Homo sapiens: one gene and its partner. The protein of the gene in region 1 purifies or fractionates together with the protein of each later gene. This does not show direct contact. Each region holds a gene or a part of one and is shown on either strand. Other genes may lie near its edges.

Region 1 (4,505 bases):
GCTTACCATGGCTTTGCAAAGCTAATTTAATGTATCGTAATGCTCTTCCGTATTTCTGAAGACTCATGGCAGCATCGGACAAAACATAATAGGCCTTTGATGACTTGAGAATCAGCTGAAGTTTCATTTTATGTTGCCAAGAGCCAGGGATCATTCCAGATTGACTGGAATAATTGCCCTTCTGAAGGGAGCCCACTGTGACATGGAGAGAAAAAAAAAGACAGCACATTTCATTTGACTGTAAGTCTCATGCACAAAAAATATTTTCTGTTTCTTGATGGAAACACTCTAGACTTAGGTGACAAGACTGGTAAATACTATGCTTTACTGCTTAAATACACTGGAGTGAAATGGCCGTGTTAAAAGACTCTCACTTGGGAGTTCTAAGGCCTTCTGCTTCCCTGACATCGGCAACTCTGTCATTCTCTTCCAGTGTCACTGACATAGCTAACCTCATGAGTGACACCTGTCTCCTTTTTCCAGTCTATGTGTCAACCTGTCAAAGTTTACCTTCCTAAAGCACAGCTTAGATCAGCGTGAAAGCCTGTCCTCAAACATGAAAACGGCTTCTCCCCACTTAGCTAGTTGCATGTTTCTCAGTCTCACTTCCTACTTGTCCATCCTACTACCCATCAGCCAATGTTAAGTTACTGCTTGTCACCTATAAACATGCCTGTTTTTCCTATCTCCCATCTTAGTTTACTGTTTCCTCTACAAGGAATACTCTTTATTTAAAGTCCAGCCCATCGCTACCTTCTTTACTCAACAAATGATCATTTTTCTGCCAAGTACTGTGCCAGGCACTGGAAACTGTGACATGAAGTTATATGGCCTCTATCCTTGATAACATAAACCACAACAAAATATGTTAAGTGTAATTAACAGACAAAGAACAAAATACTGTGGAAAATTTTGCTCTGCAAATAACAAAAACACCCACCCCTTCCCCCAGCCTGAAGGTTTCTCATTTTTTAATCAGCTAGAACACAAGTCTTTCAAGGCAATGAAAGGTACTTAGTCTTCATTATGGTTTAATGTGTGTATGGATTTTTTTCCTCTGCTGATATAAGCATCATCTGTGAGTAAGAGGCATTGTGAGAAACTAAAATTAAGATGAAGTTCTTGTTCACAACCGTGTGTGTGCATGTGTGTGTAAAACCATTTAATGCTGGAACTCTGACATAAGGCAGGCTCACAGGACAAAGTGGTAAGAGAATCAAGTAATTCTGATGGAGAACAGAGGGAAACATGGAGATTCTGAGCTTGAGCAGGATTTTCAACAGGGGAGATGGAGAAGGAGACAGAAAAGGCATTTCAGAAAAAAAGAATGGCAAAAGTCCTGGTGTGATCTCCTTACTGCCTGTAGGCCGAAGCCTGGCATACCAGCAGCACTATATAAATGCTGGGGAAATAAATCTATTCCTCTCCTACCTCCACCATGTTTGTTCAGGAAAAGAAGAAGGGTCCAGAAAGCGCTTCCACTATGATTCAGATGTACTTCAAACATACAGGCTTTCTACACTTTTTTTTTTTTTAAACAATTGAAACTGATTTAAAAGGGGGAAAGAAATAAGGTTGGAAAAAGAAATACAACTTAGGTTAAAATAAGAAATTCACAACTTCTGCTTCGAAGTCCATATATTCTTCATGATGTTATATTCCTGAAGAACTAGATAATTTAAAAGTGACATTTGTAGCTTATTCAAGTACTGTGCAGTAACAACAGCCTACACTTCTATAGTGCTTATTATGTACACTGTTCTGAGCACTTTACATATATTAATCATTTAATCATTTAACAACCCTTTAAAGAAACCATTATTATCGTCTCCATTTTGAAAGAGATAAAAAGTGACTCAAAGAAGTGGAGCAACTTGCCCTCGCAAAGCCAAGATATGAAGTTAGGCAGTCTGGCTAAGTCTGTGGCTCCTACACGATCCAGCGAGAACTCCACCAGGCTGAAGCATTAGTTCCCCACTGTGGGTAACAGGAAGATGCAGGCTCCTTATGCTCTTATTAGAAATGTCCATGAAACATCAAAATTATCCTTTTTATATTTCAAATGAAAGAATACTACCCCTAATTCCAGTTCACAGGATATCTTTTTCTCAATGCCTTTCAATTAATGCCTTAATTGACATAAGTCTGCTGTTGATAAAGAACCAGTGTATTATTCTATTGAAGGCCTTATTTGCACATCAATTCAACTTACTTTTGTCCAAAAACAAGGCCATCTGCTTCTCTAGCCCCTCGGGACCCCCTCTTGAGGATTCATCTTCATATTTTAACGGGATTGGAGTGCTGGGGTCAGCTGCTGGAAGGTCGCTTTCTTTTTTGATGCTGCTATCGACAGATTTTAAACCCTGCAAAAAAAGGAAAAGCATTCACTATCTATCTAACTTCAGGTCAACTGAAAACTAAATATAAGACAGTATCTGGACTACTGAATACGTTTAGGAAAATTTCCATCTCACAAACAGACTTTCAAAAACTATGTTTGATCTGAAAGATTTGGGAAAAACAAATCTGATTTTCACTTTATGCTTAAGGAAAAAAAAATCGCAGCAGAACACAATTCAGAATAACATTTAGATACCAACAAACAAGTGTAATTTGCATAATCAAGTACAAACTTTACGAAAAAAGTGAAGACTAAACTTAAACTTACCTCTAGAACATAGCTAAGCACAAGTCTACAGCGCTCTTCTGTGTCATGGCAAACTGGAAATGCACAACTGGGCTTGAGGAACAAACATAAAATTATTAATACACTACCAATGTATTAAGGTCAACATATTGTTTTTGTTGAAGATTAAATTACTGTAAGCATTATCAACAAAAATCTTGCTTAAAAAGATCCTACAACATATATGTTGCTTTAAGTACTTACAATTTTAAATACAATTCTATTATGACAAAAAAGCAAGAACTAGAGTAGTAATGTTTTAGACAAATATAGACATCATCTAATAGGTCAGCTCCACTCATAATTAGCACCGATACTGGACAAAACACAATTAACAATTAGCGTCAATTTAGAAATAACAAGTATCACCAATATTCTCGTTGTTTAATTTATTTGCTTAATTAAGGAGCAAAAGCAGCTAGCAACCTCCAACTATGAAGGATATTATGTGTAGGGGCTTCTGTGAAGCATTTCATTTCGCTGAATCCCGTGGGGTTGGAATTACTGTTCTCATTGCACAGAAGAGAAGCATGCACAGACAGTTTAGCAATTTGTCTGAGGACACGGTGAGTGAGTGGGGAGCTGGGACCCTGGAGCTCATGCTGACTGTCCATACCACAAAGTCATTCAATGAGGATAAGGAAAGGCTAACTAAAGACATGTTTATATGAATACTAAGACTGCATTTTTTGAGTGCTTCAGATACGGAACAGAAAGTGCTATCTGTGAAAAATAGTGACACTAACTCATTACATCTTTAATTATTACCTAATTGCCCCGTAAGTCCATGGCCTAGTGTTACAATGCAGTTTTCCAGATACATGTAACTTTTGCAATCAATGATTATAACCAGAACATTTTTTCACTCCACTGTGGAAGTTCAAGCTGAAAGTGAACTAAAATTTAGATGGACAGTTAATGACTTTTTCCTGCAGTCATTTAGTCAAATATTTACTGAGCACCCATAATGTGTTCTAGACATGGGAGATAGAGGGTCTGTACCTGCAGGGAGCTTACGTTCTAGTGAAGCAAGACAAACATTAAGAACTTCAGGAACAGATAGGCTCCTTGAAGGACAAAAAAGTAGAGCATGCTTTGGCCAGAGTGGTCAGGGAACATCTCCCTGAAGAGGCAACATTTCAGTCAAGACTTAAGCCTTAAAAAAGGCAGCCATGAACAGACCTAGGGTAGGTACATTCCAAGCAGAAGCAACAGCAAATACAAAGACCCTCCAATGAGCATAATCTTGATGCTTTTGAGAGAAAAAAAACCCAGCATGGCCACGGCAAACCAATGGAGCAAGTGAAGGTCAGAAAGATGGTCAATGTTTTAAGGTGACAGACATAGCCCCTCAAAAACTTGCTTAGAGTTTCCATCTGAAAGTTACACTCAGTGCTTAAATTAAGAGATTATCTGTAAATACGACTGTATTTCAGTTCAGGGAACAGCCAGAACTCTTAAGGCTGGCCTGGATCTAATCATAGGGAGACGGTATGTTGAAAGGTATATACTGCCTGGAGATACACTGATGGTAGAGTCAGTGCAATCCACACAGGGAGAAATCTGTCTGGCCCTCTCCAGGGCAGAGACATGTCCAATACAACAGACATGACCACAAGAGTCACGAAAAAAGTACTGTCCTATATAGCACAGGGATAATGTACCAGAGCTCACCATATACAGTTCCAAGAGCCACCCCCTTCTCTACTCTATGTTCACCAAGCAATCTATATATGTCATTTCCCAGCAACCCCAACACCGGATAGAAGTGCCCTAGTAATGAGACATGACTATGACTACACACTGGTCACTGGAAAGG
Region 2 (4,531 bases), on another chromosome or scaffold:
TGAAAACAAACCACCCCAAAACTGAGTGGCCTAAAACAAAAAGCATTTTTCTATATTTCACAATTTTGTGGGATAGGAATTTGGACGAGGCTCAGCTGAGTTCTCCCTCTGTTCCACAGGGTGTTGGTAAAAGTCATTTGGCTGCATCTCACCAGTGGCTGGTCTAGTCTGGAGGGTACTGATTTTAGTCTTGCAGGAATGGCTAGAAGGCTAGGCTTAGCTGTAACTGTCAAGCAGAATGTCTACATCACGTGTCTCTAGCCAGAAAGTATTGGGGTAGAGATTACTCACATGGGAGCTCAGGGCTGCAAGAGTAAGTGTTCTCATAAATGAGGTAGATGGGGTATGACCTTTTATGACACAGTCTCTGAAAGCACAGAGTGTCACATGTACCACACTGTATTGGTCAGAGTAGTCATGATTTCAACCAAGGGATGGGAACATGGGCACCACCTCTTCATGGGAAGATGTCAGAGAATGTGAGGCCAAGTTTTAAAATCCCCCATATAACACATACTAAACATCTACTACACACCCAGTGCTATTCTAGATAATGTAGATATATTATCAAGATGATACCTCCTGCCTGGGCCTCTTCCTTGAACTCTAAACCCACCTATGTAGACCCCCTAAACATATTACGTCTAAAACCAATTCCTAATCTGCTTTCAAACCTGCTCTGTGTTAAGTCATCTTGGTAAACCTTGATTCCACTCTTCCAGATGTTCCAGCTTTACAAGTTGGAGTCATCAACAATTTTCTTTTTTTTTTTTTTGTCTAATCCATTAGTAAATCCTGCTGACCCTACCTTTAATCTATTTCCAGCATCTGACCACTTCTAGCCACTTCATTGCTAAGACTGGTCTGAGCCACCAACCTCTCTTGCTTGGATTACTGCAATAATCTCCTACCTGGTCAGCCAGCTTCTGCACTTTCTGTCCCTAGTATCTATTTTCAAAACAGTAGTCAGATGATCCTTTTAAAATGTAAGCTGGATTGCGTCATTGCCTGGTCCACAATGCCCAGGTGGCTCTCCATTTCGCTCAGAGGAAATGCTTGAGTTTCAACAATGGCCTCCAGGGCCCTATATCATCTGACCCCACTCTCTGAACACTCCTTCACTTCCTCCAGCTCCAGTCATTCCTTGAAACACCCACGACCTTCTGCCTCAGGGCGTTTATATCTGCTGTTACTTCTCTGTAGAATGTTCTTCTCTAAGATATCCACACAGCCCATTAATTCCTATACCTTTTCCAAGTTTCTGCTCAAATGCCACCTTCCATTGACACCTTTCTTGAAATGGTCTCATTGAAAATAGCAGTCCCTCTTCCTGCCTGACCATCCTTATACCCTTCCCTGCTTTGTGTATCTACATTGCAGTTACTGCCATTTGACCCATATATAGATTTTTTTGTCTTCTCTCACTAGAATATGAGGTTTAGGAAGGCAGGTATCTTCAACCGTTTGGTTCACTGCTGCATCTGCAGCACCAAAGCAGGACCTGACCACACAAACCATGTCCTCAATAAATATATATTGAATAAATGAATATTTTGTTAATTTTAAAAAATGAAACCAATCCTTCTTTCAAGATGAGAAACCACTCTTATTTCTCTCTTGATTTTTTTCTCTCTCTGAGCAGTGAAAGTTATATAATCATATTAGCTTATCCCATAAAAATGTGATTAGCTAACAAACATGCTCTTTTGTACATTTTTGTCTAATTTGCCTAACATTCTTCCTGCTGTCCTATTGTAATCCTTGCTAGCGATGCTTGGCTTATAGTTGGCACTGACACATGTAAGCTCATGTCCCAGCTCTGCTGCCAGTGGTATGATACTGAGCAAGTGATAACATTGTCAGTTACCTCATCTACAATAAATGGGGCAATGGCATAGACCACACTGTATTGTCATCAGATAAACTGAAATAATGGATGCCAGTGCGGATCCTGGCCCATCAGAGATGGGGAAAATGTAAGTCAGTTTCCTTTTCTTACAAGCACGCTAAATCTATTCAGCCTGGCACTTTCCCGTCAAGGAGGAGTTTCTTAAAAATTGCTAAGTGGTATGGTCGAGGTGGGGGTGGCGGGGAGAACTCAGAGGAGGGAGATGAAGTCATACCAACATGCCCCTGCTCACCCCTTTCCAAAACTCAGCTATTTGGACTGGAGTGATTTGCCACAGAGAGAAACATGCCCTTTGCCCTGAGACAAAGGGGAGCTTTTCCTGACCAGCAAAAGCTAAAATGGATCCTCTGCCCTGATTTAAAACCAAACTTGTGGGTGAGAAGCCACATGATTCATGGGAGAAAATGACTTGACTCCAAATATATAATAAAAAGTATGGAAGCAACACACACACACACACACACACACACACACACACACACACACACATGCACACGCACATCAAAAGAAACTGACTTACTGAAGACGGAAATAGAGGAGAGTGGAGAATTGGAGAAGGAAAAAGGAAGATGTGGTCAGTCAGGCAAGACGTCTCCAACTGTGCCAACAGCACTCAGCCATCCAAGGGGCAGGGAATGCTGGCGTAGGGCAGGATACTTTTCCATACATCTCTATTTATACAAGCACCTCTGATAGTCTCACAAAGTAGTTATTGTACCAGTAATTCTCTTTCATGAGTGAGGGACCCAGGGCTCAGGATGACGGACACACTTGCCCCAGGCCACACAGTTAACAAGGAGCAGAACCCGGTCTAGAGCCACAAGCCACAAAAGAGCAATGCACAGCCGGCTTCCTAGCACCAAGCACTGCTCTCTGACCAGGAGGCCCGCTAATCACTGCAGAGGCCAGATACAGTCCACAAGGGCAAGTAAACACAGAGAGAAGCCAGCGGGCGCTTCAACGGAGGATCTGGGAATAGGTCAGGAGTCCAGCTGGCTGGGTAGAGCTAGGCCACATGCTGTCATTCCTCAGCACCTCCTGTCCCCTCACACTCCAGGTGGCACAGGACATGGCACACTCCTCTTCCCTCCCACCCGCCCTGAGCAAAGCCAGTGTGAGCAGAAATGCACTGGCTGACACCTGACATGTTTATTCCTGCCCAGGAGGCAGCACACACAAGCAGTTTTTCCCCAGGGCTCTCAAGTGGGAGGAACTTGTCCTGCAAGAAAAGACACACAGAAAGCCAGCAACAAAACTGAGACAGCCTTACCCCTTCCATTGCTTTCCTCCAAGGCAGAGTCAGGGAAACAAGCCCAGCCTCTCAGAGCTGGGTCCTGGGGCCAACAATCCGCTTTCCTCTGTCTCTGCTAGCCAGGGAGCAATCACTTCCCACAGGACACACCTGAGCCCAGGCTCCCCACCTGCCCCATCTGGGCCGAGGCTCCTCCCTTGCCTGGGGCTGGGCCAGGGCCGGCCGCCATCCTCCCAGCTTGGCTTAGACCAGCACCTGCAGGGGACTGGGGAGAGTACTCCACCTGCAGTCCTGCCAAGCCCACCTCTTCTCAGCAAGCGGCTCTTCCCGTTGCTCCCCTCCGGCTGGTCTGACAGTCACTCACTCTCCAGGGCATTTGTGCCCAGGCAGCAGGAGCTGTGAAGGAATGGGGATGGCAGGCTCCTGTTAGTACAGACCATGCAGGCTGGACAGTGTGATCCCCGTTAGTAACAACCTCTGCCAGCTCCGCCCCTGCAGACGGCTACTTAATTTCACAAACCCTTTCTCACGGTCAGGGAAACCAAAGCCCAGCAGGACAGCATGCCTAAGCCCACAGGGGGATTTAGTGGAGGCCAGAAAAGGAGTTAACATAAAGGAGCACCCTGTTTTTGGCCTGGTGTTTATTGAGGCATTTGGATTCCCATTTTAAAAGGTGAAGAATGGCCGGGTGCAGTGGCTCACACCTGCAATCCCAGCACTTTGGGAGGTCGAGGTGTGTGGATCACTTGAGGTCAGGAGTTTGAGACCAGCGTGGCCAACATGGTGAAACCCTGTCTCTACCAAAAATATAAAAAAAATTAGCCAGGTGTGGTAGTGGGTGCCTGTAATCCCAGCTACTTGGGAGGCTGAGGCAGGAGAATTGCTTGTACCTGGGAGGCAGACGTTGCAGTGAGCCGAGATCATGCCACTGCACTCCAGGGGGACAGAGTGAGACTCCGTCTCAAAAAAAAAAAAAAAAGTGAGGAAACTGAGTCTCAGAGAGATGGTAACACCTGCCCATGGTCACATAGGTAGTAACTAGAAGAGCCAGGGTTGGAACCCAGATCTGGCTGACTCTAAAGTGATTTTATTTTGCTGGGGTTATTTTTGTTTGTTTGTTTTTCTGACAGAGCTGGAGATGGAAACCCAAACCTCAGTTGCCAGTTTTGGGGCTTTCAGCTCTCCCGGGGTTGGGGATGGGCAGAGTGGGTGGCCTGCGCCCTGCTTTATGTGTAACCGGTGTGACTTTTCTTGCTTTGTCAAGTTCTTAGAAATCTTCTCCTGTCCTGACCAGGGAGAGGCGGGGTGGAGCACAGGTGAGGAGACCCCGCCTGAGGGCCATTTCCTCTAACAGGTGATTCCCAAACCTG

What was found. The genes of interacting proteins can lie anywhere in the genome.
Region 2: the proteins of EDRF1 (region 1) and FYB2 purify together in Homo sapiens (affinity purification with mass spectrometry, with the first as the bait; one large-scale study listed by BioGRID). This does not show direct contact.

Annotation. Positions count from the first base shown.
Region 1 is NC_000010.11:125,736,153-125,740,657, reverse strand, and holds part of EDRF1 (erythroid differentiation-related factor 1), read right to left. Parts: intron 2,741-4,505; coding exon 2,669-2,740; intron 2,364-2,668; coding exon 2,213-2,363; intron 196-2,212; coding exon 7-195; intron 1-6. UniProt on the Homo sapiens protein: Transcription factor involved in erythroid differentiation. Involved in transcriptional activation of the globin gene.
Region 2 is NC_000001.11:56,816,103-56,820,633, forward strand, and holds the start of FYB2 (FYN-binding protein 2), read right to left. Parts: upstream 3,303-4,531; 5' UTR 3,189-3,302; coding exon 3,180-3,188; intron 1-3,179. UniProt on the Homo sapiens protein: Adapter protein that plays a role in T-cell receptor (TCR)-mediated activation of signaling pathways. Required for T-cell activation and integrin-mediated T-cell adhesion in response to TCR stimulation.